6 separate regions of the Homo sapiens genome follow, and regions 1, 3, 4, 5 and 6 are each reported to be linked to region 2. Evidence: microRNA targets listed by miRTarBase, many of them from high-throughput screens and not tested one by one. Region 2 holds a microRNA gene; each other region holds the end of a gene's coding sequence.
The links. Region 2 holds the annotated microRNA hsa-miR-4638-5p (ACUCGGCUGCGGUGGACAAGU, at 1,473-1,493, opposite strand). A microRNA usually pairs through its seed, bases 2 to 8, with sites in the 3' UTR of a target mRNA and lowers its output. Matches are read on the target gene's strand: a 7mer-m8 pairs with bases 2 to 8, a 7mer-A1 pairs with bases 2 to 7 and ends in A, and an 8mer does both.

Region 1: the mRNA of PIAS4 is a reported target of hsa-miR-4638-5p. Seed matches in the 3' UTR shown: 8mer at 3,475-3,482.
Region 3: miRTarBase lists NOL10 as a target of hsa-miR-4638-5p. The part of its 3' UTR that is shown has no 7-base or 8-base seed match.
Region 4: miRTarBase lists WDR31 as a target of hsa-miR-4638-5p. Seed matches in the 3' UTR shown: 8mer at 2,258-2,265.
Region 5: the mRNA of G6PC1 is a reported target of hsa-miR-4638-5p. The part of its 3' UTR that is shown has no 7-base or 8-base seed match.
Region 6: miRTarBase lists HINFP as a target of hsa-miR-4638-5p. Seed matches in the 3' UTR shown: 7mer-A1 at 4,576-4,582 and 8mer at 3,209-3,216.

Annotation. Positions count from the first base shown.
Region 1 is chr19:4,036,812-4,041,890 of GRCh38, reverse strand. PIAS4 (protein inhibitor of activated STAT 4) reads right to left here. Exons shown (of 11, transcript NM_015897.4): 10 at 4,387-4,517; 11 at 2,505-4,275. The coding sequence ends at 4,016. Among named protein-coding and RNA genes, the nearest start is that of ZBTB7A, 28 kb to the left of the region's middle.
Region 2 is chr5:181,221,140-181,226,139 of GRCh38, forward strand. It overlaps MIR4638 (microRNA 4638), which reads right to left and starts at 1,494; the gene lies at 1,427-1,494. TRIM41 (tripartite motif containing 41) reads left to right here and starts at 2,142. Exons shown (of 6, transcript NM_033549.5): 1 at 2,142-3,673. The coding sequence starts at 2,861. TRK-CTT2-3 (tRNA-Lys (anticodon CTT) 2-3) reads right to left here and starts at 912; the gene lies at 840-912. TRV-CAC1-5 (tRNA-Val (anticodon CAC) 1-5) reads right to left here and starts at 1,328; the gene lies at 1,256-1,328. RefSeq lists silencers at 721-930, 1,181-1,410, 2,681-2,890 and enhancers at 2,141-2,370, 3,038-4,035.
Region 3 is chr2:10,567,437-10,572,506 of GRCh38, reverse strand. NOL10 (nucleolar protein 10) reads left to right here. Exons shown (of 21, transcript NM_024894.4): 21 at 317-1,753. The coding sequence ends at 436. Among named protein-coding and RNA genes, the nearest start is that of NOL10, 120 kb to the left of the region's middle.
Region 4 is chr9:113,312,423-113,317,508 of GRCh38, forward strand. WDR31 (WD repeat domain 31) reads right to left here. Exons shown (of 11, transcript NM_001012361.4): 11 at 800-4,487. The coding sequence ends at 4,327. Among named protein-coding and RNA genes, the nearest start is that of RNF183, 12 kb to the left of the region's middle.
Region 5 is chr17:42,911,049-42,916,133 of GRCh38, forward strand. It overlaps G6PC1 (glucose-6-phosphatase catalytic subunit 1), which reads left to right. Exons shown (of 5, transcript NM_000151.4): 5 at 1-3,390. The coding sequence ends at 378. Among named protein-coding and RNA genes, the nearest start is that of G6PC1, 13 kb to the left of the region's middle.
Region 6 is chr11:119,134,102-119,139,187 of GRCh38, reverse strand. It overlaps HINFP (histone H4 transcription factor), which reads right to left. Exons shown (of 10, transcript NM_198971.3): 10 at 3,129-5,086. The coding sequence ends at 4,690. Among named protein-coding and RNA genes, the nearest start is that of ABCG4, 12 kb to the left of the region's middle.

The DNA.
Region 1 (5,079 bases), not on the chromosome of region 2:
GGAGGCTGAGGCAGAAGGATTGCTTGAGCCCAGGAGGTCGAGGCTGCAGTGAGCTATGATTACACCACTGCACTCCAGCCTGGGCGATAGAGTGAGACCCTGTCTCAAAAATAAAAATACAAAAATATAATTCACATACCATACAATTTCCCTTCAAGGCCAGGCGCGGTGGCTCATGCCTGAAATCCCAGCACTTTGGGAGGCCAAGAAGGGAGGATCACTTAAGCCCAGGAGTTCAAGACCAGCCAGAAAAACAAGGTGAAGCCACGTCTATGCAAGAAATACAAAAATTAGCCGAGTGTGATGGTGCACACCTGTGGTCCCAGCTACTCTGGAGGCTGAGGTGGAAGTATTGCTTGAGCCCAGGAGGTCGAGGCTGCCGTGAGCTATGATTGCACCACTGCACTCCAGCCTGGGTGACAGAGTGAGACCCTTTCTCAGAAATGAAAATAAATGTAATTCACACACCATATAATTGCTCTTCAAAGCCAGGTGCGGCAGCTCATGCCTGTAATGCTCCCAGCATTTTGGGAGGCCAAGGCAGGTGGATCACGAGGTCAAGAGATTGAGACCATCCTGGCCAACATGGTGACTAGTAAAAATACAAAAATTAGCTGGGCGTGGTGGTGCACGCCTATAGTCCCAGCTACTCAGGAAGCTGTAGCAGGAGAATCACTTAAACCTGGGGGGAGGTGAAGGTTGCAGTAAGCCGAGATGGTGCCACTGCACTCCAGCCTGGGCAACAGGGCAAGACTCCATGTCAAAAGAAAAAAAAAAAAAAAAAGGCTGGGCACGGTGGCTCATGCCTGTAATCCCAACACTTTGGGAGGCCGAGGTGGGCAGATCAGGAGGTCAGGAGATTGAGACCATCCTGGCTAACACGGTGAAACCCCCGTCTCTCCTAAAAACACAAAAAATTAGCCGGGCGTGGTGGCGGGCGCCTGTAGTCCCAGCTACTTGGGAGGCTGAGGCAGGAGAATGGCGTGAACCCGGGAGGCAGAGCTTGCAGTGAGCTGAGATCACGCCACTGCACTCCAGCCTGGGCGACAGAGCGAGACTGTCTCAAACAAACAAACAAAAAATTCCCTTAAAAAAATTATGCACCTGTCACCACTAATTCCAGAACATTCTATCCAGCCCAAAGGATGCCCCATATCCATTTGTGATCACTCTCAATCCCCTTCTCCACTCTCCAGCACCCGTGAATCCCCTTCCTGTCTCTGTGGATTGGCCTGTTCTGGACATTTCACAGAAATGGGATCACACGCCTCGTGGCCTTTGGTGTCTGATGTCTCTCACTAAGCATGGCATCCTCAGAGTTCGTCTGGGCTGGGGGCCTGTGTTAGAGCCTCGCTCCTTTCCATGGCTGTCATTCTGCAGTGTGGATGGCCACACTGCACTGATTCACTCCCCGGCTGGACATGGGTCATTGCCACATTTGGCTGCTGTGCACGTCCGTGAGCACATTTGTGTGGACGGACGTGTTCACTTACCTTGGGGACACGTCTAGGGCTGGCATTGCAGGTCCCACGCTAACTCCACATTTAGCCTCAACTGTTTCCAAGGGGCTGCACCACGTTATCTTCCCCAGCCATGTGGACTGCAGCTTCCCTGACCCTCGCTGCTGTTTTTGATGCTAGCTGTCCTGGTGGGGGTGACAGGTATCTCACCGTGCATTTGACTCACATCCCTAACATCTCTTCATGTGCTCATTGGTTGTCTGTATATATATTTTTTTGAGACGGAGTCTCGCTCTGTCGCCCAGGCTGGAGTGCAGTGGCGTGATCTCAGCTCACTGCAACCTCCGCCTCCTGGGTTCAAGCAATTCTCCTGCCTCAGCCTCCCGAGTAGCTGGGACTACAGGCGCCCGCCACCACGCCCAGCTTTTTGTATTTTTAGTAGAGATGGGGTTTCACTGTGTTAGCCAGGATGGTCTCGATCTCCTGACCTCAGGTGATCCACCCGCCTCGGCCTCCCAAAGTGCTGGGATTACAAGCGTGAGCCACTGCACCCGGCCCTTTTTTTTCACCTTACAAAAGCAAAACATTTGTGTATCGTCTTGGCCACCCAGAGACATGGACGATCCTGGGACCTGAATTCCATGTACAGCCCAAGTCCCTTCTCCCATTCTCCCAGCGTGGTGGACACCAGGCCCAGGCAGTACAGTACACAGTAAAACTGGCCTCATTCAGGTCGGGCATGGTGGCTCATGCCTGTAATCCTAGCACTTTGGGAGGCTGAGGCAGGAGGATCACTTGAGGCCCAGAGTTCAAGACCAGCTTGGGCAACACAGCAAGACTCCCTGTCTCTATTAAAAATAAGTAAATAAATAAAAATCTGCCTCATTTGACCACGAGCAGCACCTTTTGAATTCTGAAGCTGAGGCAATAACCAAGAAAGAGAGATGTGGGTGAGGCTGAGTTTCTGTCCTTCCCCCAACTCCGCCCCCCGACTACAGGGTACACACTTAAGAGACACAGGGCACAGAAAAGCGGACGCCTGGATGGCTTCACCTCGACCTTTTTTATTTGCATTTTTTAAAAACAATTAAATTAGAATACAAATATTAGAAAACAGCGGCCTTCAGCTGCCCGTGCGGGCGGGAGGGGCCGAGCTGCGCAGCGGGCTGCGGGCTCTGCAGTGAGACTGAACTGCCCTCGGCCAGATGCACGTCCCTTTCTTTAGACCTGAAATGATATTGCTTCCTGACTAGGAGTTCTGTTTATACAAAGGAAAATTCTGGGCTGGGGAGGACAAAAGCAAAACAGACCGCAGGCAGCGGTGTTGGAGAACCAGGTGAGGCCGGTGCCCCGCCTGCGCCCCGGTCTCCTGCGGGGCAAGGGGGGTGCCCAGCTGTGGGCTCCTGAAGGCAGAGCCCTGGTAGCTCCCCCAGTTGTTGGACCCTGAGGCCAAGGGCATGGGTGGGGCCTGCGAGGGGCCGGGAACGCCTGGGGACAGGAAGGAGGCCCCTGGTCTGGTCCTGCTGGAAGAGTGAGGCTCCCGGGGGACAGGGTGCCGGGCCAGCCTCGTACCCGTCGGAAAACCAAGAGCAAAAAGGAGAGGAATCAACCCAAACCGAGAGCCGGGGTGGCCGGGGTCCCTGCTGCCCCTTGGGAAGCGACCGCAACCCATGCCCCAAGGACCGGGGTATGGTGGCGGCGGCGGCGGCGGCAGCTGTGGACATCTGTGGACATCTGTGCTGTTCCGTAGGGAAGTTAACCTGAATTGGAATTACCGAGGTAGCTGGCTAGAAAACTGAGACCCCCCCACGCCACACGGTGCCGCACCCTGGGCCCCCGCCTTCCCCGGGGGTTCCTGACCACACGCCGGGTCTTCAAAATACCAAATTATTGCACTTTCAAAAAATACAACACATCTGTGGCTAAACCCTCCCCAGCCGCCCACTGTACCCCCATCCTGCCCACCCATCCCCCCACCCTACTGCCCCTCCCCGCCCCAACCCACTCCATGGCTTCTCGGCTAAAACGCTCGCTGCTCGGCGCGTGAGGGTCTCTGGGCGAGGATGCATTTGCAGAGAAAAAGCAAAGGAAGAGACAAACGTCAAAGTGGTCGCCAGAGAGGGGCTGCGCCCCACCGCCCGCCGCCCGGGTCCCCGCGCACTGGCTGGAATGGTCGTGGGCAGAGGGCGGCGGGCGGCGGGGCATCCGGAGGGGAGGGCGCGGGGCGGCGTCCTGGTCCCTCCCGCCCACTACCCCTTCCCGGCTCGGACTCCAGCCGGGGAGGCGGCTGTGTGGGTGGCCGGCCTTGTTTTTAAGAGTTTGACTTTTTTGTTTCATTTTTCTTTTTTGTATCTTTTTTTGTCATTTTACTTTTTTTTTTAATCCCCCGATAGGAGAGTCCAGAGGTACAGGTGCCAGGAGCCAGGCAAAAGGGTGGAAAAACAAAACGAACGACAATAAAAAGAAAAAGAAAGGTCACTCCTCCCTCTGCGCCCGAGGCTGGCCCGTGCCCCTCTGCGTGGTGAGCACCAGGAAAGTCGAGTGTGCGGCCGGGGTCAGCAGGCCGGCACCAGGCCCTTCTGGAAGGGGCAGCGGCGCTTGGGCCGGGGCCCCTCTTCGTCCTCGTCTTCCTCCTCCTCTTCCTCCTCCTCCTCATCCTCCGAGGACGATGAGCTGTCCAGCGTGAGGTCCACCACATCGGCGCCCGGCTTCCCATTCTCCATGCTGCCCACCGGGCCGCCGCCACCCGTGCTGCCCAGGGCACCGCTCCCGTTGACGCTGGGGGCGGGCAGGAGCCCATTGGCGTCCGAGGGGCCTACGGGCAACAGGGACAGGGTGCAGGTACTTAGGATGCAACCACTGATAAATGGGGAAACTGAGGCGGCCCTGGCTGCGGACTGCGCGGCTGGTGGGGTGAGGCACTCACCCAGCACGAGGATGGCGCCCTGCGGGCTGCAGCTGCGCTCCTTTTCGGCGCGGATCGGGCACCACGAGCCGTCCACCAGGTACTCGATCTCGTCGGCGTCCTCACACTCGCTCAGGATCTTCGAGAGGAGCCTGGGGCGAGGCGGACAGCTGACGCCGGGGCTGGAGGTGCCCCACCCCCCCAACTCCCCAGCCCTCCATCCCTCCCGGATGCAGCCAGGCACTCCCCACTTCTCTCTGCAAGAGCAGCCTCACCACCCCGACCGCAGGGGTCCAGGGACCCCGCATTCCCTCCCCCGCCCTCAGGCCCCTGCAGGTGCTGAGCCCCAGGCAGGTCTGCAGTGCACGGCACTGCCGGGGGGACGGGGCATGGACACACATACCCAGTGGCCCCCAACTACCCACAAGAGCAGGGAGTGTGGCAGCTGCAGGGGTCCTCCCCACCCTGCCCCTCTGGGCACCTCCGGGTGTGCACGCATGTTTGAGCGTGTGTGGACGTGAGTGTATCTGTGCATGTGTGCGAGCATGTGCGTGTGTGTGCACGTGTGCATGTGTGGAGTCTATGAATGTGTGTGTGTGAGCATGTGTACACACGTGTGAATGGATGCATATGGGCATACGTGAATGTGGACTGTATGGATGTGTGGCATGCGGGTGTGGGCGTGTGTGTGTGACGGTGTGGACTGTACAGATA
Region 2 (5,000 bases):
AAAAAAAAAAAAAAAAAAAGAAAGAAAGAAAGAGAAGAAAAAAAGAAAAAAGGCCTATATTTGCAGGACTAATTTCGAGGCCATCCTGGGCTCAAGCGATCCTCCCGCCTTGGCTTACCCAAAGTATTGGGATTACAGGCATAAGCCACCGCGGCGCATGGCCCGTTTTTATCTCTATTTATGTATGGGGGAAACGTGGAGGCTGGTATTTGTGGGGCAACATCTCACAAAAATAGACTCTTAAAGTCAAGAGCATAAAAAAGAATATACGGAAGACAAGTGTCTCATATGACACAAAGCATCTTTCTTGACAGGGAGTCGAAAGCAGGTCGTAGCGAGACAAAGGCGGAAGCCTAACCACTAAATCTCCCAGTAAAGTGGGAGTGAATCAGATAGGTTTTGACGCTCACGAACGCCTGGGGTCGTCCTGCGGTCTCACCCCAGTTTCGATAAACCACATTGTTCCCTCCAGCACAGCAAGTCTCACAGCAAGACGGGGGCAGGCCGTCTGGTAAACATAAAATGCCTAATATGTGCTGCCCGTGGGCGAGTGGCCTACAGCAAAGGGTCATGCATGCACGATAGCCCGCGGTGCTGGCCTGCAGGAATTGGTCCACAGGTACCCGCCTCTCATTCTTTCTTTGAGAGTTAGCGAGGGTGCAAACGTTGTGAGAATTCTGCTCGGGGCCTTCCACACACGGATCGGAGAACACCAGGTTAGTCCAAGTTCTAACACCCACTGTTGGTGAATCTGCTACCCACTAGGTCTTGGTACAGAGAATACCATTTGTGCACTTAGGTAACACAACTTGCCTTAACCTTTCCAAAAAGCGAAATTACGCCCAACGTGGGGCTCGAACCCACGACCCTGAGATTAAGAGTCTCATGCTCTACCGACTGAGCTAGCCGGGCGGCCATGTCTGTATTCTAACTTTGTCTCTGAAGATGGAGGTTACCCTCAGAGGTGTAAGCACGTTTCCACTGTGCAAATACTAAGAAGCGCCTGCGCCTGGCTCTGTTCTAGGCACTAGAGCCGAGGATCTGAAATCTACGGATTCCTGTACATGTGATGGCTGCATAGGCTTCAGAAGGGAAGAGCAAGAGATTAGGTGAGGGGCGAGACCTGAATTTACTTGAGTAGTGCTCTCCTTCAGTTTTGCCCCAGTCCGTGTTCCTCCGAAGCGCAGGGACACACATGTCCTTCCTGCCACGTAAGGCCGGCCTCGGGAGAGAATCTCCCGAACAGACCAAAACGTGTTTCCGCCCGGTTTCGAACCGGGGACCTTTCGCGTGTGAGGCGAACGTGATAACCACTACACTACGGAAACCACCTTGGCTACTTTCCTGCCGGCATCGTCCTGAAGACACACACGGCTGAGACGGCCGGGATAGCTCTAGGCAAGCGCCCTTGTAGGACAGGCCCGGGGACCCCTGCCGCGGCCGGCTGAGCGGTGTCCAGGTTCTGGAGCCGGACTTGTCCACCGCAGCCGAGTCCGCAGGTCCTGTAATGGCCTAGCATAGTTCACCCACGAGGGTTCGTGGTTTTTGGCGCGTTTGATCTGACATACTCAGAGGCCTGACCACCCCCCTAGGAAGCGCGACGTCCATCTGGAGTTTTCCCGCGAGCCGCCTTGAGAGCAGGGTAAGTTCTGCAGGCCCAGCCCTGGCGTCACGCTGTGTCTGGCACTCACTGGAGATTCTGTACATAAATCATGGCCCCGTCATTTTTCTCGCATCAAACAACATTTATTTATTTATGTATCGACATCAAATCTCTATAAAAATAAAATTTAAAGAGCTATTTAAGCATCAAGTATTATTTCTACCGCACAAAGCATCTATTTTTGCAGAGATGCTGTGAGAATGTAGATGTAATGATTCGTCACCACTTCTTCACTGCTGGGCAGTTAGGGAAGTTCATCTAAACCATGAGACAGTGTCCGGTTGGCAGTTTCTACCTCGGATGCGAAACGCCGACTACAGTTGGGGAAGGGTGGGGCGTCTGCTGCCCTAACCCGCGAAGCGCTTTCTCAGGCCCCGCCCCCGGTCCGACCCGGACGACCCTCTGAGTCCTCCACAACGAAGTCGTCTGCCTAGAAGGGCCGGAAGTACTTCAGGGCGCGCCGCGGACCCACCCCCTCGCTTCCGGCATCGGCTGTGGGGAGTACCGGCTGCAGTCGGCTGTGCCGGGAGGGTAGGATGGCGTCTGGCCGATGCGGTGATAGCACCGAAAGCAGACGGCCGCCAGGCGCTCCCCCTACCCCCCGAAGTTTCTCCCCAGCGGCGGGGGATGGGGGTAGGCGGTTCCTCTGTTCTTTCTGCGTTCCCCGCGGCCTCTTACCACAGAGACGCGGGCCTCCACCGTCCTAGCCCTCCCGCCCTGTTCTCTAGTGCGGACTAGAGCGTCTCCTCGCCATTTCCTGTCGCCCTGGGGCCCCGCGGGGAAAAAGGGGGAGTAGCAGGACAGCGGAGGGAAGTCGCGAGCTTAGGTGGTGTGTAGACGCCGGAAGTGTTGGGAAGGAGGCCGGAAGCTAGGGGCGGGGCCAGGAAGTGAGGAGGGGCGGGGGTTTATGAGGAGTCCAAGGGAGCATTGGGGCAGACTTGTACTCAGAGCCACCTGAGGGACTTGGCGGTGGCGCCCAGCACTGTCCCCTCCCCTCGTAGAGACACGGTTGTCGTTTGGGAGTAGGGAACACTGTGTTGGGGTGGGTTGTCGGCAGGACATCTCTCTGGCTGCTCTTGGGGCGAGGTGTGGAGGGGCAGGGCTGGGGGTGGAGCCGGGTCGCCAGGGCGTCGGTAGGGAAGACCCCCGCCCCTCGCCCCCCCACCGAACCTCTACACTGGCTGGCTGGACACTAAGATGGCTGCCGTTGCCATGACACCCAACCCTGTGCAGACCCTTCAGGAGGAGGCGGTGTGCGCCATCTGCCTCGATTACTTCACGGACCCCGTGTCCATCGGCTGCGGGCACAACTTCTGCCGAGTTTGTGTAACCCAGTTGTGGGGTGGGGAGGATGAGGAGGACAGAGATGAGTTAGATCGGGAGGAGGAGGAGGAGGACGGAGAGGAGGAGGAAGTGGAGGCTGTGGGGGCTGGCGCGGGGTGGGACACCCCCATGCGGGATGAAGACTACGAGGGTGACATGGAGGAGGAGGTCGAGGAGGAAGAAGAGGGTGTGTTCTGGACCAGTGGCATGAGCAGGTCCAGCTGGGACAACATGGACTATGTGTGGGAGGAGGAGGACGAGGAGGAAGACCTGGACTACTACTTGGGGGACATGGAGGAGGAGGACCTGAGGGGGGAGGATGAGGAGGACGAGGAGGAAGTGCTGGAGGAGGTTGAGGAAGAGGATCTAGACCCCGTCACCCCACTGCCCCCGCCTCCAGCCCCTCGGAGGTGCTTCACATGCCCTCAGTGCCGAAAGAGCTTTCCTCGGCGGAGCTTCCGCCCCAACCTGCAGCTGGCCAATATGGTCCAGGTGATTCGGCAGATGCACCCAACCCCTGGTCGAGGGAGCCGCGTGACCGATCAGGGCATCTGTCCCAAACACCAAGAAGCCCTGAAGCTCTTCTGCGAGGTAGACGAAGAGGCCATCTGTGTGGTGTGCCGAGAATCCAGGAGCCACAAACAGCACAGCGTGGTGCCATTGGAGGAGGTGGTGCAGGAGTACAAGGTGAGAGAAGTACAGAGAGAAGATGGGAGTTTAGTGGGGGGATGGAGAGGAAGTAAGGGGACCTGGGAAAAGGAAACATCTCTTCACCCACCAAAGAACCTCATGGTATTGGTGAGCCAAGTTTGCTTATCTAAGCACTTACTGCCACCAAGGTGGATTAGAATGAGAAGGATTCTGTACACAGAGCAGATGCAGTGAAGACGACCAGGGAAGGATGGCTTCCTCAAAGCAAATAGAGCAAAGCCGGTGATGCCAGATCAGGTCTCTAGGGCTTTACCAGAAGTCTCGTTTTCTTTCGGGTGAGTCTTAAGTCTGTCCTTGACGGAGACACCTAGAGATGGAAAGAACTGGGGGCTTCAAAGGACAAGAAAAGGCTCAGAAGCAGGAACACAGAGATAACTGCTAGTGTCAGTGTCAGACCCAAATGCTCTGCACTTGCCTCCCAGTGGGTTCCCCACCTACCACGATATGGCTTGGTTCTGTCTTCAAGGACTTTGGTTGGCTCTGTGTCATTCTTATGCACTGACTAGAAAGCAGGAGCTTTTCAGTCAGAAGACCTGGCTCTGCAAGTTGCATTGTCAAATCTTGATTAAGTCTGTGAGTGTCTTTGGACTTTAATTTGTCCAGGATTGATAGTTAATATTCACTGGACATTTATATGTATACCAGGCACTGTACTAGGCACTTTTCATGGACTGTCTCGTTAAAACCCAGACAACACTGAGTTTGATATGTTTTCCATTCCCATTTTATAGATTGGGAAACAAAGTCAGAGAGGCTTTAAGTACCATACAGAGGGCCACAGAGCTTCAGTAATAATTGACTTAGTTATTTACTGTCCCTTCCCCTGGTGTATACTAACAACGCCACCACCATTTGGATGTCTGTTGTTTGACTTTTCTGATGTGACTTTCTTGGAGTCTGATTCTAGTTTGACAAATACCTTGCCCCTACTTCTCATTTTGACTCTTCTTTGGACATAGGTAAAGGAGATTTGTTTGCAAGGCAGCCAGCACAAATAGCACTACTTAGTGAAGGCCTGGATGGGTTTGAAGCAGTGGGACCAGGAGGAGGAGGGGGTAGCCTCTGTGTGGTCTGCACAGAGCTTTTTTTGTTTTATAACTCATGTTTTCAGACCTTCTCCTGATTCCTGCTATAACTTCATTTAGGTATTATTTTCGTTACCCCAATTTTAGAGTAATGTGTCTAGGGTTTCTCAGCTCTGAGTGGTACAGCTAGACATACCTACATTACCTCATCACAAGTAACAATTTCTTTTACAGAGTGGCCTTTTTTTTTTTTAATTTTTTGAGACGGAGTCTCACTC
Region 3 (5,070 bases), not on the chromosome of region 2:
AGTGTGTTGGTTGAAAAACCAGTCTCCTACTTTGTAGGAGGCTGGTCTGTCAGGGCCCTTCTCTTGCCTGGGGTTCAGAATTTCTGCTTTTGCATTGATGGTAAAAGTTGGCCTTGGTCCTGCTGTTTCTGCCAGGGTAGCATTTGTCAGAGCAGAGTCCAGGCAGCCCCACCATGTCCCCTGGAGCCTGTGGGCAGCATTTCTCCTGGCAGCAGTTCTGAGATTGGTGGTGGTACTGTTGGCAGCCTGACGGTTACCAGAAAAGAGGTATAGAATTTTCTCTCTTTCCCTCTACTCATTTCATTTTCTCTTTTAGTCTGAACAGCAGAAGAAGCAACAGGAGGCTGAGAAACTGCATCGACAAGAAAGGAAAAGACTCCGTCGTTCGGCCGGACACCTGAAGTCAAGACACAAAAGAGGACGGTCGTTTCATTGATTTGGGAAGTGGTCCTACCTGTGATTAGGGAGGGGTACGTCTCCCCCAAACTGATCATCGTTAGGGTGTTAAACACAGACGAGGAAACACACGTTTTTAAAGTTCATGTACGTTCTTGTACACAGAGGTAAAGATTTGAAAACCTGTGCCTTGTGGGTTGGACTTTGAAGCTGGCCCCGCCGACGGCCACCGCACAGCCCCAGGGGTGTGCTTGCGAGTCGTTGCTCCCTGGAAACATTGTCCTTTCCCCACGGCGTTAATCATGAAAACCAGGCTGGGGTTTTTTTAATATTGTGAAATGTACACCATGAAATGAAAGGTTTATCCTGTGCCAGAAACCAAGGTTTATCATGCTCTAGGAACTTTTTTCTTACACTGCCTACCGCCATTCATGATTAAACCATCCAGAAATACCATCCCTGTTTTACCTGGTGTCTGTGTATTGCCTGTGTTTGTGTTTATAAGTTTATGCTGATAGGTTTGTTCGGCTTGTTTATGTATTAGTTTGGGATTTGTTTTTAAATAATTTATACCAAGAGAGTATAATCTAATGGTGCAGGTTGAGAGCATCCCAAATCCGAAAATCTAAAACTGTTTGAGCACTGTATTTATCTGTTCTTGCACTGCTATAAAGAACTACCTGAAACTGGGTAATTTATAAGTAAAGAAAAGAGGTTTAATTGACTCACAGTTCTACAGGTGGTACAGGAAGCATGGCTGTGGAGGCCCTGGGAAGCTTACAATCGTGGCAGAAGGTGAAGCGGAAGCAGGTATGTCCTGCGTGGCTAGAGCCAGAGGAGGAGGGCAAAGGGGCAGATGCTGCACACTTTCAAACACCAGATCTCCAAGAACTCACTAACACAGAATAGCAAGGGGGAAGTCTGCCCCCATGTTTCAGTCACCTCCCTCCAGGCCCCTCCTCCAACACCGAAGATTACAATTTGACATGAGATTTGTGTGGGGACACAGAGCAAAACCATATCAAGCACTGACATGACATTGGAGGAAAATGCTCATTAGAGCTTTTCAGGTTTTGGATTTTCAGATTTGGGATACTTGACTAGTAAATATAATACAGATATTCCAAAACACACAAAAAAACCAAAGTCTAAAAGACTTCTGGTCCCAAGCATTTCAGATAAGGGATACCCAACCTGTAATAATGGGAAACAAGCAGTAGAGGCTGTTGGTTAATCTTGGCACAAGTTTAATTACAGGTTTTTTTTTTTTCCTGTTTCTTAAGTACAGTCAAACATAAACTTACTGGAGGAAACATTTATAAAAATAAATATACTTTCATTTGAATAGCTTCTTTGAGAAAGACTCCAAGAAAATTTTTTTTTCATTAGTCAAACGGTGGTGTGCACTTGTAGTCCCAGCTACTGAGGCTGAGGTGGGTTGCTTGAGCCTGAGAAGTCGAGGCCAGCCTGGACGACAGAGCAAGACCTGCGTCTCAAAAAAAGAAAGAAGAGAACCAACTTTGGTTTCCTTAGTTTTTCCAGCTTTGATGTGATTTTGGAGGTGCCTTTATAGATTTTTAAGGTTCTTTATATACAACTGAAATAGTAACTCTTTGGACTGTGAATGATACAGCCTAATTTCGAATAGCATAAGCCGAGAGGCAGAATGCATTAATTTACATCACCATGCTTGGGACATGGAACTGGCCTCAGGAACACCTAGATCCATGGCTCCACGGTCAGTCAGCTAGCACATGCGCACTCTATCTCTGTTTCCCTCTTTCTCTCTCTCTCCTTCCCCTACTCCCTCCCTTCCTCCTCCTGTCTCACCATTGTTCCTTCTCTCTTCAGGCCTCCCCTGCTGTCTTTTCCCTATGTGTTTCCCGTCCCCCTGCCTCTGCTCTCTGTGCTGCTTCTGCTTCTGTGCAGATTGGCTTGTTCCCAAGGCAGGGAACAGCTCAGCCATGTGTCCACTTCTGTGGTCCGAGAAATGAGGTCTGTTTACAGAAAAAAGGTGTGTGGAAGGTGGGGTATGTGTGTATGTTCTTGTTCCTGGGGCACCCAGCCCCATTTGTGCTGTGGTACCAGGGAGTCCTCCAGCTGTTCCAACCCCTGGACCGGTACTGTCCTTTTTCAGCTTCTTTCCCCCTAAACTCTTGCTCACTGTCCACCTCTTCTCAAAGGAAGTGGCTGCAGCTTCCTGTTGCCTTCTCTTCTCTGTTTCTACGCTGCCTCCCTCAGGGATGGGGGGTTTTAAAAATTTAGAGAGGGACATTTTGCTGGCTGGAATGTCCCCAGGGGTTGGGTGTTTATGCCCTTGGCCTGTTTCCTGACGTCAGGGTCTGTCACGTCTACTCCTGGCTTTCCCAGGCCCCTCTTTTCCTTCCTTCTTGAAGGGCCTCCTGGTTCTGTGGGGAGCCGGTATTCCGCAGGGCCAGATTCCACAGGCAGCGGTGCTCTCTGTTCACCCAGCACTGTCAGCACACCAGGAGGTCAGGACATCAGGGTAGAGGAGGAGGGCCAGGATCACTTCTGGGCACCTGGGAGGCTGGCAGTTTAGTAGAAAGAGCTTGCATTTGGAACCACCCTGACACAGGGTCGAATTCCAGGTCTGTTGCCTACTAGTTCTGTGTCTTTTGACTGTTGCCTTAATCTCTGTGAATCTCATTTCCTCCTGTAGATCAGCCTAATACTTAGTTTTTATTAGAGTAAAATGAGGCACTTACATTAGGTACAGCACCTGGCACTGTGCAAGGCTCATGAGGATTTGACAAAGCTTCTTGACCATTGAGGGTTTTCAAGAGCAGGGGAGGTGACCTCGGCTTTTGTTCTGGAGAGTTGCTGAAGGGCAGGCGGAGGGACTGCCCTGAGTCTGAGGGACACAGAAGGAGTGTCCGCTGACGACAGCTATATGGGTACTCCTCCTAGGCCTGACCCGTCCCTCATTGCCCCAGTTTTCCTACCGATTCAGCCCTTAACGCAGGCCTGCCTCTTCAGGGCTGATTCCCAGCGTGCCTGCTCTAATCCTTCATGTCTTCGAAGTTTCCTGTTTCCAAGTTTTATTCAGCTTTCATACTCTACTCCATAATTTTTCCGTGTGTGTGATATACTACTCACTAGTCCTAGGAAATGGCCATTTCCCATGGGTCTCTGTCCCAGGCACGCACAGCTGGGGGTGTTCATGAGCCAGTGCGAGAAGCATTTCCTCACAGATGGGGCCCCGAGGGCATGGCTTTTACAGCGGGACTGAGCTGGGGGTTCCTGGGCTGCCATTTCTCCCCTTCCCCTGCTCCAGATCCCCTCAGCCTCTGACACCCCAGACCTAAGGCCCAAGTTTGTTTATTTGTTTCCAAGTTTGTGCTCAGCAGTTAGGATAATGGTGGCTTTGGAGAGAGGGGGGAACATGGCTGGGAGGGACGTGATGGGGGATCCTGTTTGGTCTTGTTCCCTCACCTGGTGGTGGCTTTTCCCACGGGCGCACTTTGATCACTCCTGGGCTGCTCACGACTCATGTCTCTTTCTCTGTGCTTGTTATCCTTGAACACAAAGTTTCATTGAAAAAGAATTACTCGTGTTAGCCAGGATGGTCTCGATCTCCTGACCTCGTGATCTGCCCCCCTCGGCCTCCCAGAGTGCTGGGATTACACAATGAAACCCTGTCTCTACTAAAAATACAAAAAATTAGCTGAGTGTGGTGACAGGCACCTGTAGTCCCAGCTACTCTGGAGACTGAGGCAGGAGAATGGCGTGAACCTGGGAGGCAGAGCTTGCAGTGAGCCGAGATTGCGCCACCGCACTCCAGCCTGGGCGACAGAGTGAGACTCCGTCTCAAAAAAAATAAAAAGAAAGGAAAAAAAAAAAGAAAAAGAATTGCTTTATCGAAGGGACATGTTTCATGGCTCCTCACAAAACCATTTCTATAGATAACTCATAACACTGTAAGGTTATGTTTTTTAGATATTTTTCTGTTCTATAGACAATGATAGACACATCTGTTTTAATAATACAAATGGGATCACACTATATATGCTGTTCCTGAACTTGATTTTTGTAACTAACAATATATTAGAGATATTTTCCCAGGTCTATACATATTAATATGTAGGGTGATCTACCTCATTCTTTTGTATAGAGTATTTCATTACATGGCTGACCCATAATTTATTTAACTCTCTGTCTACATACAGTTCAACCTAAAAATCTAAAGAAATAACCTTTTAAAATCTTTTTTCAAAAAAAGTTTACATTCAAGGAGACACGTGCTTGTTTGTGAGATGGGCATATTGCACACTGGTGAGGAGTGGGCTTCCAATGCACCCGTTACCCAAATAGTGGACACTGCATCCAGTAGGCAGTTCCTCAACCCTTACCACCCTCCCAGCCTTTGGGGTTCCCTGTGTCTGTTATTTCCATCTTTTTTTTTCTTTTTCTTTCTTTTTTTTTTTTTTTTTTTGAGACAGAGTCTCGTTCTGTCACCCAGGCTGGAGTCCAATGGTGCAATCTCAGCTCACTGCAACCTCCGCCTCCCGGGTTCAAGTGATTCTCCTGCCTCAGCCTCCTGAGTAGCTGAGACTACAGGCACCCACCACCATACCCAGCTAATTTTTGTATTTTTAGTAGAAACAAGGTTTCACCATGTTGGCCAGACTGGTCTCGAACTCTTGACCTCAGGCG
Region 4 (5,086 bases), not on the chromosome of region 2:
CTGCATTTTTTTTTTAATGGAGTCTTGCTCTGTCGCCCAGGCTGGAGTGCAGTGGTGCGATCATGGCTCACTGCAGCCTCTGTCTCCTAGGTTCAAGGGATTCTCCTGCCTCAGCTTCCCCAGTAGCTGGGATCACAGGCATGTACCACCACATCTGGCTAATTTTTGTACTTTTAGCAGAGATAGGAATTCACCATGTTGGTCTGGCTGGTCTCAAACTCCTGGCCTCAAGTGATCTGCCCGCTTCGGCCTCCCAAAATGCTGGAATTACAGGCATGAGCCACCGCACCTGCCACAGTCTACTACATTACTAATAATAAAGCTGCTCTTTAATAATTATGTTTTCAGAAGGCCATTTGGAAATAGTTTTTATCTCACTGTTGGATTATAAAAACACCAAGTGACCCGAGTTCTACACTTTTCTGTGCCAAAATGAAGAACATTAATAATAAGTATCCATTTCCCCTCAAGTATATATATTTAAATCATAAATATGTAAGTAAATGTATACATTTATTTAAATTTTAAATATGCAATTGGCCAGGTTCCAAGGGCTTATCCACCTTCCTGGAAAAAAATTGTCTTTGGAAAATTCCTTGATATGATTTTAGAGGGCAGCCTCTAAAATGAAGTGTTCAATGAATGTTCAAGGAATGAATGAATTTTAGCAACCTGTATCTTAGGTGCTGAGAGTATCTGATTAGGGCATATCAGACTAAAAAAAGTCCTCTACAAACACTAGAATTTACTAATCTATTTTCTACTTAAAATGCATAGATAATTTGACATCAAGCACATGTACAGTTTATGGAAACAATTTTATTGGTAACAGAACCCTACTAACTCATCAGAGCCCCACTATTTTCTCCCGTGTACTTTCCTTCTCCTGGCAGCCTGTCCCCCTTCCCTGGGACCCCCTCCCAACTCATTCCCGTGAACTTTCTGACTTGCTGCCTCTCTCCCTTCTGGGAAAAAGTGTCAGCTGCTGCACTAATAATCCAGCACATGCTACGACTGTCCCTGAGACAGCTGTCTACTGCCCCTAGGCACTTGGGCAGGGGATCTCCTTGGAGCCAGAAAGTTAATAACTGGTCTTGAAGATACAAACAATGTCATGGTCTATGACTTTGTGACACGATGCAAAGGAAAGCGTTTGGGCTTTGAGTCAGGCAGACCCAGATTCATACCTCAGCTCTTCTTAATATGTGTGTGACTTTGGGCAAAGTACTGCATGTTTCTAGCCCTCAGCTTCCTCATCTGTGAAATGGAAATCACAATACAGAGAATATTGGGAATAACAAATGAGAATAAATATATTTAGCCCTCTGTAGATGCTCAGTGACCGGGCTTCCTCTCCCACTATCTCTTTGTCTTTCCAGAGTTGAAAGACCCATAACAAGGAATCAAAGGAGAGTGAAACGATGACTAAAGGTTTAGAGGATAAGATCTAAGAATGGATGAAGGAGGCCGGGCGCAGTGGCTCACGCCTGTAATCCCAGCACTTAGGCGGGCGGATCACGAGGTCAGGAGATTGAGACCATCCTGGCTAACACGGTGAAATCCCGTCTCTACTAAAAACACAAAAAAATTAGCCGGGCGTGATGGCGGGCGCCTGTAGTCCCAGCTATTCGGGAGGCTGAGGCAGGAGAATGGCGTCAACCCGGGAGGCGGAGCTTGCAGCGAGCCGAGATTGCACCACTGCACTCCAGCCTGGGCGACAGAGCAAGATTCCATCTCAAAAAAAAAAAAAAAAAAAAGGATCAAGGAATGGTAAACGTTTATTTTATTTTATTTTATTTTATTTTATTTTGAGATAGAGTCTCTCTCTGTTGCCTAGGCTGGAGTGCAATGGCACAATCTCAGCTCACTGCAACCTCTGCCTCCCCGGTTGAAGCGATTCTCCTGCCTCAGCCTCCTGAGTAGCTGGGACTACAGGCGGGCACCACCACACCCAGCTAATTTTTGTATTTTTAGTAGAGACGGGGTTTCACCATATTGGCCAGGATGGTCTCGATCTCTTGACCTTGTGATCTGCCCGCCTAGGCCTCACAAAGTGCTGGGATTACAGGCATGAGCCAACGCGTCCGGCAGAATGGTAAATGTTTAATATGGAAAAGGGAACATTTAGTCTGGACAGAGAGGACAATAAATAATTATGGCTACCATTTGTCACCACCTTTCCTGGCATTTACTTATTTATTTATTTATTGAGATGGAGTTTCGCTCTTGTTGCCCAGGCTGGAGTGCAATGGCACAATCTCGGCTCACCGCAACCTCCGCCTCCTGGGTTCAAGCGATTCTCCCGCCTCAGGCTCCCCAGGTAGCTGGGATTACAGGCATGCACCACCACGCCTGGCTAATTTTTGTATTTTTAGTAGAGACGGGGTTTCTCCATGTTGGTCAGGCTGGTCTCAAACTCCTGACCTCAGGTGATCCTCCTGCCTCGGCCTCCCAAAGTGCTGGGATTACAGGTTTGAGCCACTGCGCCTGGCCTTTCCTGGCATTTAAAATAGCTATGTCCAGTCTTCAGAACAGCCCTGTGGCGAGGTATGATCATGAAACCCACGTTATAAAGTGAAGAGGAAACAGATTTTATAACTTGCCCAAGATCATCCAGCTAAATGGAGAAGTGGAGATTCAAAGTCGGGTCTGACTCTTTGTACTAGCTTAAGAACAGACTCTCAGCTGGATGTGGTGGCTCATACCTGTAATCTCAACACTTAAGGAGGCCGAGGCAGATGGATCACTTGAGCCCAGGAGTTTTAGACCACACAAACACACAAAAAATTAGCCAGGTGTGGTGGTGCATGCCTGCAGTCCCAGCTACTCAGGAGGCTAAGGAGGGAGGATTGATTGAGCCCTGGTGATTGAGGCTGCAGTTAGCCATGATCACACCAAGAGAGGGAAGAAGGAAGGTGGCTGTCAGTCACTGGTATCAGAGACAAGCAGAGGACAGAGAAGACAAATGCAAAATCTTTCTTTGGCTGGGACTTGTCAGAAAGGGAATCTCCAGTGTTGGTGATGGTGTCACCAACAGCCTCATGTGCCTTATGTGTGGGCATCTCTGAAGGCAGAAAGAACTCCATTTTCCCTGGAGGAAAATGGACCAGTGAGCATGAGGCTGAGGTCTGACTCCTGGGGGCCACACAGGCAGGCCTGAGCACCTTGCCCCTCCTCACTGAAGGGGGCTTAATGTCTGGGGCACAGTTGACTCCATCCCTCTCTTTTTTCCTGTATGTGGTTTTTTGTTTTTTTTTTTTTCAAGACAAGGTCTCATTCTGTCACACAGACTGGAGTGCAGTGGCACAATCTCAGCTCACTGCAAACTCTGCCTCCCAGGTTCAAGTGATTCTCCCATCTCAGCCTCCCGAGTAGCTGGGACTACAGGCACGCACGTACAGGCTGGTCTTGAACTCCTGACCTAAAGTGATCTGCCTGCCTCGTTTTTCCTGTATGTTCTAATGTTATTTCAGGGATCCCCTTTGCCTCACTCTGGCCATTCCAAAACATATATATGTTTCATTTATATAAATCCAAATGAAAATATTAAAATTGCAAGTGAGATATTTTTGGCCTTAATCTTTGAATTTCAATGTTTTCTTATCTGTAGAGCTGGTGTGCTAACTCCTGTAATTCTGGGCAATGCCCATGTGGTTCTTGGCTGCTTCAAGCCATCTCAGGTCTGATTTTCACACAAGCTCAGCAGCACTGGGCTAGAAGGGTACCGCCCTCCCACTCTGCTGCCACTTTGAATAGAAGTCCAAGCTTTCGCTTTCTTGCCCTGACTTTGATTCTTCACATTGCTGAGGAGCAGTGATTGAAGCTTAATCTCATTGTCTACAGTCCGTCTCCTCTATGGAGCTGCACTATTCTTTCCCATCTCAATTATTTCTGATGTAACCAAAACACTCTCTCTCCCCACTGCCTTTTTTCTTTTGTAAAGACTTGCAAAGGGTCAGTTCCAGAGGCTCGAGCCCTGTGTTCTGACTTTCACAGACAGAGGCCTGCCACTCTTACATTTACAGGTCATCATTCTGAGCAATACACTTTTTTTGAAGAGTAGTCCTAAAAGCTCACTAAAAAGTTGCATTTGTATTTAACTTAAATAGAGAACCTTATGTGTAGTCCATGTTTCTGGACTCTATACCTGATTTTGAATCACTGGACTTAAATTATTGGACTTACAACACTGATACATCTTGTAAATGAACCTAAGCAAAGAATACCAGCCCTACATCCCACTCCCCTCAAGATAACTGGGAAAGACACAAAGCCATGCTGAGGAGGAGCCATGGTTTGATATTGTCCAGTGAGTGTCTCTTGGCCTCAGAATGCTGCCACTTCCTGCAGTTCCAGCCCTTGGCTGTGGTCCATTCTGAGTAAGTGAATTCCTCTGTTAAAACTTGCACACAATAAGGAGATGGCGTCACCAACAGCCAGAGAAGTCAAGGGTCCTGATCCATCCAGAGACAAGGTGAAAAGGCAGGCTGGGGGGGAAAGGGGGACCAGCAGATTAGGCCAAGAGTGTAGCATCATGAAATGTGATGTCTTCATGAGAAATGCAAGGAAATAAAGCATTTGCTGTACATATCTAACCCGTATGAGAGAGACCCCACTTCTTCAGAGGAAAGCATACCAGGGAGGTCAGAACTTGGGCCAACTCCATGACTTCAATGGTAGAGAATGGCACACGGGCCAAACAGGATGCATACCATCACCAAGAAGTGTCGGGGTCTCACCGGCTAAAGACATGTTACAAAGGTGCCCTCAGTCACCTGCCCAGAGAATAAAGCAGGGCCCAGGCAGGGAAAAACACACAAGGATACTGATCTTTAGCTGCTGGCTTCCTGGGGTCTTGATGCCTTGGAGATGGAGGATAATGGGAGAGCCCGAAAGGCAGTCTTTGGGGGTTTCAGCTGACCCATCTCCCTCCATCTGCATCTTAGAGGCCACTCTTCTAAAAACTACAGGCGCATACCTGGTGGGCAGGGAATCTGTGCCACTTGGTCAGGTCAACATTTCCAGATCTCGTTCTCCCTGGTCAGATTTATGATCATTAAGTCTAAAACATCTGCTCTTTTTCCTC
Region 5 (5,085 bases), not on the chromosome of region 2:
GACCTCCTGTGGACTCTGGAGAAAGCCCAGAGGTGGTGCGAGCAGCCAGAATGGGTCCACATTGACACCACACCCTTTGCCAGCCTCCTCAAGAACCTGGGCACGCTCTTTGGCCTGGGGCTGGCTCTCAACTCCAGCATGTACAGGGAGAGCTGCAAGGGGAAACTCAGCAAGTGGCTCCCATTCCGCCTCAGCTCTATTGTAGCCTCCCTCGTCCTCCTGCACGTCTTTGACTCCTTGAAACCCCCATCCCAAGTCGAGCTGGTCTTCTACGTCTTGTCCTTCTGCAAGAGTGCGGTAGTGCCCCTGGCATCCGTCAGTGTCATCCCCTACTGCCTCGCCCAGGTCCTGGGCCAGCCGCACAAGAAGTCGTTGTAAGAGATGTGGAGTCTTCGGTGTTTAAAGTCAACAACCATGCCAGGGATTGAGGAGGACTACTATTTGAAGCAATGGGCACTGGTATTTGGAGCAAGTGACATGCCATCCATTCTGCCGTCGTGGAATTAAATCACGGATGGCAGATTGGAGGGTCGCCTGGCTTATTCCCATGTGTGACTCCAGCCTGCCCTCAGCACAGACTCTTTCAGATGGAGGTGCCATATCACGTACACCATATGCAAGTTTCCCGCCAGGAGGTCCTCCTCTCTCTACTTGAATACTCTCACAAGTAGGGAGCTCACTCCCACTGGAACAGCCCATTTTATCTTTGAATGGTCTTCTGCCAGCCCATTTTGAGGCCAGAGGTGCTGTCAGCTCAGGTGGTCCTCTTTTACAATCCTAATCATATTGGGTAATGTTTTTGAAAAGCTAATGAAGCTATTGAGAAAGACCTGTTGCTAGAAGTTGGGTTGTTCTGGATTTTCCCCTGAAGACTTACTTATTCTTCCGTCACATATACAAAAGCAAGACTTCCAGGTAGGGCCAGCTCACAAGCCCAGGCTGGAGATCCTAACTGAGAATTTTCTACCTGTGTTCATTCTTACCGAGAAAAGGAGAAAGGAGCTCTGAATCTGATAGGAAAAGAAGGCTGCCTAAGGAGGAGTTTTTAGTATGTGGCGTATCATGCAAGTGCTATGCCAAGCCATGTCTAAATGGCTTTAATTATATAGTAATGCACTCTCAGTAATGGGGGACCAGCTTAAGTATAATTAATAGATGGTTAGTGGGGTAATTCTGCTTCTAGTATTTTTTTTACTGTGCATACATGTTCATCGTATTTCCTTGGATTTCTGAATGGCTGCAGTGACCCAGATATTGCACTAGGTCAAAACATTCAGGTATAGCTGACATCTCCTCTATCACATTACATCATCCTCCTTATAAGCCCAGCTCTGCTTTTTCCAGATTCTTCCACTGGCTCCACATCCACCCCACTGGATCTTCAGAAGGCTAGAGGGCGACTCTGGTGGTGCTTTTGTATGTTTCAATTAGGCTCTGAAATCTTGGGCAAAATGACAAGGGGAGGGCCAGGATTCCTCTCTCAGGTCACTCCAGTGTTACTTTTAATTCCTAGAGGGTAAATATGACTCCTTTCTCTATCCCAAGCCAACCAAGAGCACATTCTTAAAGGAAAAGTCAACATCTTCTCTCTTTTTTTTTTTTTTTGAGACAGGGTCTCACTATGTTGCCCAGGCTGCTCTTGAATTCCTGGGCTCAAGCAGTCCTCCCACCCTACCACAGCGTCCCGCGTAGCTGGGACTACAGGTGCAAGCCACTATGTCCAGCTAGCCAACTCCTCCTTGCCTGCTTTTCTTTTTTTTTCTTTTTTTGAGACGGCGCACCTATCACCCAGGCTGGAGTGGAGTGGCACGATCTTGGCTCACTGCAACCTCTTCCTCCTGGTTCAAGCGATTCTCATGTCTCAGCCTCCTCAGTAGCTAGGACTACCGGCGTGCACCACCATGCCAGGCTAATTTTTATATTTTTAGAATTTTAGAAGAGATGGGATTTCATCATGTTGGCCAGGCTGGTCTCGAACTCCTGACCTCAAGTGATCCACCTGCCTTGGCCTCCCAAGGTGCTAGGATTACAGGCATGAGCCACCGCACCGGGCCCTCCTTGCCTGTTTTTCAATCTCATCTGATATGCAGAGTATTTCTGCCCCACCCACCTACCCCCCAAAAAAAGCTGAAGCCTATTTATTTGAAAGTCCTTGTTTTTGCTACTAATTATATAGTATACCATACATTATCATTCAAAACAACCATCCTGCTCATAACATCTTTGAAAAGAAAAATATATATGTGCAGTATTTTATTAAAGCAACATTTTATTTAAGAATAAAGTCTTGTTAATTACTATATTTTAGATGCAATGTGATCTGAAGTTTCTAATTCTGGCCCAACTAAATTTCTAGCTCTGTTTCCCTAAACAAATAATTTGGTTTCTCTGTGCCTGCATTTTCCCTTTGGAGAAGAAAAGTGCTCTCTCTTGAGTTGACCGAGAGTCCCATTAGGGATAGGGAGACTTAAATGCATCCACAGGGGCACAGGCAGAGTTGAGCACATAAACGGAGGCCCAAAATCAGCATAGAACCAGAAAGATTCAGAGTTGGCCAAGAATGAACATTGGCTACCAGACCACAAGTCAGCATGAGTTGCTCTATGGCATCAAATTGCAACTTGAGAGTAGATGGGCAGGGTCACTATCAAATTAAGCAATCAGGGCACACAAGTTGCAGTAACACAACAAGACTAGGCCAGCTCTGGAATCCAGTAACTCAGTGTCAGCAAGGTTTTGGGTTATAGTTCAAGAAAGTCTAAACAGAGCCAGTCACAGCACCAAGGAATGCTCAAGGGAGCTATTGCAGGTTTCTCTGCTAAGAGATTTATTTCATCCTGGGTGCAGGGTTCGACCTCCAAAGGCCTCAAATCATCACCGTATCAATGGATTTCCTGAGGGTAAGCTCCGCTATTTCACACCTGAACTCCGGAGTCTGTATATTCAGGGAAGATTGCATTCTCCTACTGGATTTGGGCTCTCAGAGGGCGTTGTGGGAACCAGGCCCCTCACAGAATCAAATGGTCCCAACCAGGGAGAAAGAAAATAGTCTTTTTTTTTTTTTTAATAGAGATGGGGGTCTCACTATGCTGCCCAGGCTGGTCTTGAACTCCTGGGTTCAAGTGATCCTCCTGCCTCAGCCTCCCAAAGTGCTGGGATTACAGTGTGAGCCACTGCGCTTGGCCAGAAATGGTTTTGATCTGTCTGAACTGAACCCTACTGCTTAGGCATAGCCCCATCCTTGATAATCTATTTGCTCCCAAGGACCAAGTCCAAGATCCTTACAAGAAAGGTCTGCCAGAAAGTAAATACTGCCCCCACTCCCTGAAGTTTATGAGGTTGATAAGAAAACATAACAGATAAAGTTTATTGAGTGCTAACTTTATGCCAGATTCTGTTCTATGTACTTTATTTATACAATTAACTCGCTTAGTTCTCCCAACATCTCTGTGAGTTGGCTACTGTCATTTATCCTTATATTACAAATAGGTCCAGAGGGGTTAGTCATCTTGTCCAGAATGGTGGAACCAGGTTAAGGATCAGGCAGTCTGGGCTGGGCATGGTGGCTCACATCTGTAATCCCAGCACTTTGGGAGGCTGAGGTGGCAGATTGCCTGAGCTCAGGAGTTCGAGACCAGCCTGGGCAACATGGTGAGACCCCCGTCTATACCAAAAATACAAAACATTAGCCAAGCGTGGTGGTGCATGCCTGTGGTCCTAACTACTCAGGTGGCTGAGGTGGGAGAATCCCTTGAGCTCAGAGGTTGCAGTGAGCCAAGATTATGCCACTGCACTCCAGCCTGGGTGACAGAGTGAGACCCTGTCTCAGAAAAAAAAAAAAAAAAGAAGCAAGCAGTCTGGGCTGGGTGCTGTGGCTCGCGCCTGTAATCCCAGATACAAAATAATCATTTTGTAATATATCCTGCTTATTAGACAGAACATTTTGATCACTCATCTGTTCCCTAAGTTATAGATTTACGTCCACTTTAGAAATGGCTTGTGAGGCAAGTTTAAGTGACCGATGACAGTTTTAAAGCAAGGTCCATGTCATGTTATGGCATAATTTGGTAGAATGTTCTAGTAGTGTATCAGTTTTCAGGTGGTAGGCTTGAGGATGATACACACACACACACACGCAATGCAATTCTATTATTGCCCAAAGAAAATAGACCCATTAAGGAAGTCCAACTTCTGCTGCGTGGACCAGTGCTGCCACATCACACATAGACCAAAGGCTTAGGTTTTTGTGGTTTTGGTTATTTATTTTATCTTTTTATTTTATTTTATCTTATTTTATTTTATTTTATTTTATTATTTGAGATGGAGTCTCACTCTGTCACCCAGGCTGGGGTGCAATGGCGCAATCTCAGCTCACTGCAACCTCCAACTCCTGGGGCTCAAATGATCCTCCAGCCTCAGCCTCCCGAATAGCTGGGACTACAGATGCGTACCACCATGCCTGGCTAATTTTTTTATTTTTTGTAGAGACAGGGTCTCAAGCATCCTCCCGCCTTAGCCTCCCAAAGTGCTGGGATAACAGGCATGAGCTGCTGCACTCAGCCATGTTTTTGATTTTTAACAAAATTGTAACACCTTAAAAAAAATGTATAACAAGGCCGGGCACGGTGGCTCATGCCTGTAATCCCAGCACTTTGGGAAGCCAAGGCAGGCAGATCACCTGAGATCAGGAGTTCGACCTGACCAACATGGTGAAACCGCGTCTCTACTAAAAATACAAAAAATTAGCCAGACGTGGTGGCACATGCATGTAATCCCAGCTACTTGAGAGGCTGAGACAGGAGAACTGCTTGAACCGGGGAGGCAGAGGTTGCAGTGAGCCCAGATCACACCATTGCACTCCAACCTGGGCAACAAGAGTGAAACTCCATCTCAAAAAAAAAAAAAGCTGTATAACAGCTTGAGATATAATTCACAATACCATACAATTCACTCATTTAAAGTGTACAATTCAGGGGTTTTCATTCCACTCCAACCCACTCAAGCCTAGGCAACCACTAATCTACTTTCTGTCTCATAGATTTGCCTATTTGGGGCATTTCATATAAATAGACTCCTACAATATGT
Region 6 (5,086 bases), not on the chromosome of region 2:
TCCTTTCTGCCCACTAATCTTCAGAAGCCTCACTGGAACCTCCAGTGGTGTGACTGTAACTGCTGTACTACCTCCAGCTTCCTAGGCCCTCACCGTCCAGTCTGGACTTCATGATCCATCTCTAGCTGCTCTAATTGCCTTGCTCCTTGGCCCTGTGCAACCCATGTCCTGGCCACCACACCATTGCTGTGATACACCCAGTGGTCTGTTTTCTGTTTGTGTTCCAGGGGTGCTCCTGTCTGCTGAAAAAAAAAAAAAATTCTATGGTTGTATTGAAGTTGCCCCTGCCTGATCTTGGTCTTCAATTTCAGCTGGGTCGTCAGGTCTTCTATCTCATTCTTATATCTGTTAATGGCATTTCTAAAATGTGTCAATTTGTATAAATCCTTAATCCAACAGATTATCTTCAATAACTTTAATTCCTACTTTATCAATGAAATAGAGACCACCAAGCATGAAATCCCCCTTATGCCTATGAACAAAATCCATATCCACTCCCATTCCTACCTTCTTCTCTCTACTTCATTCCTTTCCAAGTTTTATTTATCTACTTGTTCTCTATATTCTTCCCACCCCAAATCTAGGGGCTTTACCCTATCAAATATCCTCGCTCCTGTATTTTTCTTTTTTGTTGTTGTTGTTGTTGTTGTTGCTGTTTGTTTTTTTAGACAGAGTCTGGCTCTGTTGCCCAGGCTAAAATGCAGTGGCACGATCACAATTCACTGTAGCCTGGACCTCCCAGGTTCAAGCCATCCTCCCATCTCAGCTTCCCGAGTAGCTGGGATTATAGGCACGTGCCACCATGCCCTGCTTTTTGTAGTTTTTTGTAGTTTGGGTTCTGCCATGCTGCCCTGGCTGGTCTCGAACTCGCGGGCTCAAGCAATCCTCTCACCTCTGCCCCTGCCTCTGCCTCTGCCTCTGCCTCCCAAAGTGCTGGGATTACAGGCATGAGCCACCGCACCAGGCTTCTCTTGTATTTTTGAAATCTTCTCTCACTGGCTTCTTCCCCTTGGCCTCTAGTCTCTTCCCCTCAGGAAATTAGCCTTAAGTTCCACGAGGGTGGGGACATCCCCATTCCTTTCCAAGTTTCATCTACTTTCTTGTCCTCCACATTCCCTCCCCAGCCAAGAAATCCAAGCTATTTAGCATGGTATGAAGAAGCTTTCACCATCTCCTCCACCCTTCCCTCTCAGCCTTAAGTCTCTCTGCTACTGTACATGAAATGGATATGTTCCTCATTTGATTCCTGATCTTGAGCAAACTTCATTTATTCATTTAACATGCATTGAGTGTCCAAATTCACTAGGTCATAATCTGACAGTAATTATTTATTCCCCATGACCATTCATCATTCCTCTCCCTTCTCATCTTGGAGAAATCATTTTTCTTTTTTTTTTTTTTTTTTTTTTGAGACACTGTTCTGTCATCCAGGCTGGAGTGCAGTGGCACAATCACAGCTCACTGCAGCCTCAACTTCCCCAGGCTCAGGCAATTCTCTCACCTCAGCCTCCCAAGTAGCTGGGACTACAGGCATGCACCACCACGCCTGGGCTAAATTTTTGTATTTTTTGTAGAATTGGGGTTTTGTCATGTTGCTCAGGCTAGTCGCGAATTCCTGGGCTCAAGCCATCCACCCACCTCGGCCTCCCAAAGTGCTGGGATTATAGGCATGAGCCACTGCACCTGGCCTCTTTTTCAATTTTCCTTTTTAGTTGACACTTTTTTTTTTTTTTTTTTTGAGACAGTCTTGGTCTGTCGCCCAGGCTGGAGTACAGTGACGTGATCTCAGCTCACTCCAACCTCTGCCTCCCAGATTCAAGCAATTCTCCTGCCTCAGCCTCCTGAGTAGCTGAGACTACAAGCATGTGCCACCATGCCCAACTAATTTTTGTATTTTTAGTAGAGACAGGGTTTCCCCATGTTGGCCAGACTGGTCTGGAACTCCTGACCTCAAGTGATCCGCCCACCTCGGCCTCCCAAAGTGCTAGGATTACAGGCGTGAGCCACCATACCCGGCCATAGTTGACACTTTTTTATATCCACCCAGTTCTTCTAAGTCCTCTGTGGTTGTGGACTTGCCACAAATAAGAGAAAAGAAGTTATCTGCTTCCAACTCCTGGGCCACCTGCCTTCTCTCCTATCCCTACCCCCTTTAAGGAAGACTAAGACAGGGTGTCTCCTTAATCTTCAGACACCATGATGCTGGGACCAGGGTTGACTCTAGGTGAAATTCTAAGGTAACCAAATTAGTATCATCACCCTCCTCCCTCCAGGAGCCCACTGTCACCCACCACAGCCTTTAGTATCCTTCCAGAGGCCTCTGGCTGCCTAGACTACTCAACAGTGACCCCTCACTCCTGGTCCAGTACTTTCTAAGCCATGCATACTGAGTCCAGGATCCCAAGTCACCCCTCCTCCTAGGGAATGGAATCACATGGTAACAGACCAGAATCTCTTCTGCTGTCTCCATGGTCCAGATAGAGCAATGCGATTTGGTGTGGGCATGACTGAGAAGACTAGTAGGGAAGGTCCTTTTCATAGAATGCTGGCCTGCTCCCGAAGACACTGCTCATGGAAGAATGGATAGAGTCATTAGTGCTGCATTACTCAAGGGACACCCCACGCCAGTGCTTAGACACCAGCAAAACTGGGGAACTGAAAAATAAAAGAAAAAATTAGAAACAGAATTTGATAGTTAATCTATATACAATATATGTTTTAAGTATAATCATGTTGAACTTTAAATGTTTCATGGCTTAATATTTTCATTCTGATTACATATGAAAAATGGGACACCACAATCTTTTCAGAGTTTAGAACCTTTAAAGTCTTCATCTAGTCTTGGTTAGGTGGAAGGTCTCTTCCTGGATGAAACCTTTCCTGATCCCTTGCCCAGGTAGTACCATTACTCCTATTTGGAGCCTTCTAAATGTACCCTGATTAACTTCTATCACTCAGCTTACCTAGTCTTTCCTTGCTTCTGCATTGCAAGTCCCTCCAGGGAAGGTCCTGGGTTTTATTCATCTTTGTATCCTTAGCACCTGTGCCTGGACTATAGTAGGAACTCAATAAATGGCTGATGGGATTAATGAAGAGATCTTTTTCTTTCCACAAATAGACACACACAGTTTTTCTTTTCTTTCTTTATTTATTTATTTATTTGAGACGGAGTCTCACTGTGTCGCCAGGCTGGAGTGCAGTGGCATGATCTCGGCTCACTGCAACCTCAGCCTCCCGGGTTCAAGCAATTCTCCTGCCTCAGCCTCCCGAGTAGCTGGGACTACAGATGTGTGCCACCATGCCCAGCTGATTTTTATATTTTTAGTAGAGACGGGGTTTCACCATGTTGGCCAGGATGGTCTCCATCTCTTGACCTTGTGATCCGCCCGCCTCAGCCTCCCAAAGTGTTGGGATTACAGGCGTGAACCACTGCATTCAGCCTTAGTTTTTCTAGTAATAGAATTAGGTCTTACAAAAAAAGGCCCAGAGATCCTTTTTGGGCAGCTTCCTGTCCCCAAGACTATTTCCTTGACCTCTCCAGCATAGCAGTAGACCATAAAAATGGACACAGGGTGCTGAGAAGCAGCTGAACCAGACGAAATGATGATTCTTATTTTGGGAGGTTTCAATCTCTTTGATAATCTAGCAAAAAACAGATCCTTTCCCCAGGAAAATGCACATTCAGACACACAATTTTCTAGTTTGGTTCCTGGACCACTTGATTGCCTCCCTTCCCTGGGAGGCTTCCCAATCCTCTCCACCCCCCAGCTTCCTTCCCACTCCCAGGTAAAGAACCCCTACCCTAGAGGCACTGGGTTCTAATCAGTATTCAGAGTGAGGCCATGGTCAGCTGCCCTATCCTCCCAGTGAGCCCATTCTTGTTCATTCTATAGCACCACTACTGCCCACTCACAGCCAAACACCTGGGACCTCCATGGAAATGGCATACGCTCTGAGAATAGCGAAGTTTCACCAAGGGGAGGAGGAGAAGACAACAGGACAGTTAAGCAAACAAAAAACAAACCACCTGAGTCACCAGAAGGGGAACAAGCCTAACTATTCAGCTCCTCTTCTGGGTGGCTGTATCTCCTCATTACCTAGTAAACTGCCACCAAATGTAAGAAGAAATAAATAAGAGTCCAAGCATTTATTTTATTACCAAAAACAATTTGTTAATAAACACGCTCAATGCCTCCAATCCTGTCCCTGAGGATAATCATGAAAGTCCTTGGGGTTGTAGAGGAAACCTTAAGAGGAAAATGGCTACTTGGTTATCAATGCCTTGGCTGGTGACAAAGAAAGGACCCTTGCAGGGACCAGTCACATGCCATCCTTGGGCCTAAGGAGCCCGAAAGATGGGAATGGATGTGAGCTAAGGATTTAATCACTGTCAAGCAGATCTTGAGGGTTATGGTTAAGCCTGATAACAGCCTCTTTAACAAGAACACACACATCCAGGATCCCCTCAAAGAATCCAGAGTCCTCAGGCTCCCCACAAAATGTAGTCTGGCAGAAAAGGGAAGTCTTTAGAGTCTGCAGAATGATGCAAACCCAGGCCAGAGTGGACCACACTGCTCTCGGCACCACTCCTAAAGGCATCCATTGGCAACGGCTGCCCACTAGGGGCACTGCCACTTGCCTGGCTCAAACTTCAGGACCTGGGGAAGAAATGGTCTGGCTCTGCGGCCTTCAAACCATCTGGATCTCTGGCTCCTCAGCTATTCCTTGAAGCTTTTCCATGATGCCCCCTGAAGGTGGCTCAGGGGCTGGGGGAGGCTCCCCTGGGGCTTCAGACAGCACATAGTAGACGATCTCTTGCTGGCCTTGGGCATTGGTCTGATTCACCACGTGGATGACAGAACTGGGGTTGTCCTGAGAGGCTGAGAGGGCTGTCCCTTCGCTACCCTTGCCCTCCTCTTCCTCTTCCTTACGTCCTGGCTCCCCTGGCACTGTTTCTAGAATAATGCCCTGCAGGCTGCTCTCGTTCAGCGACGTTCCCAGGCCCGATCCCTCTTGTGGTTGCCGCAGCAGTTGCTGTGTCAGCTCTACACTCTCGTAGCGAACCAGCTGCAGCCGCATATAGCCA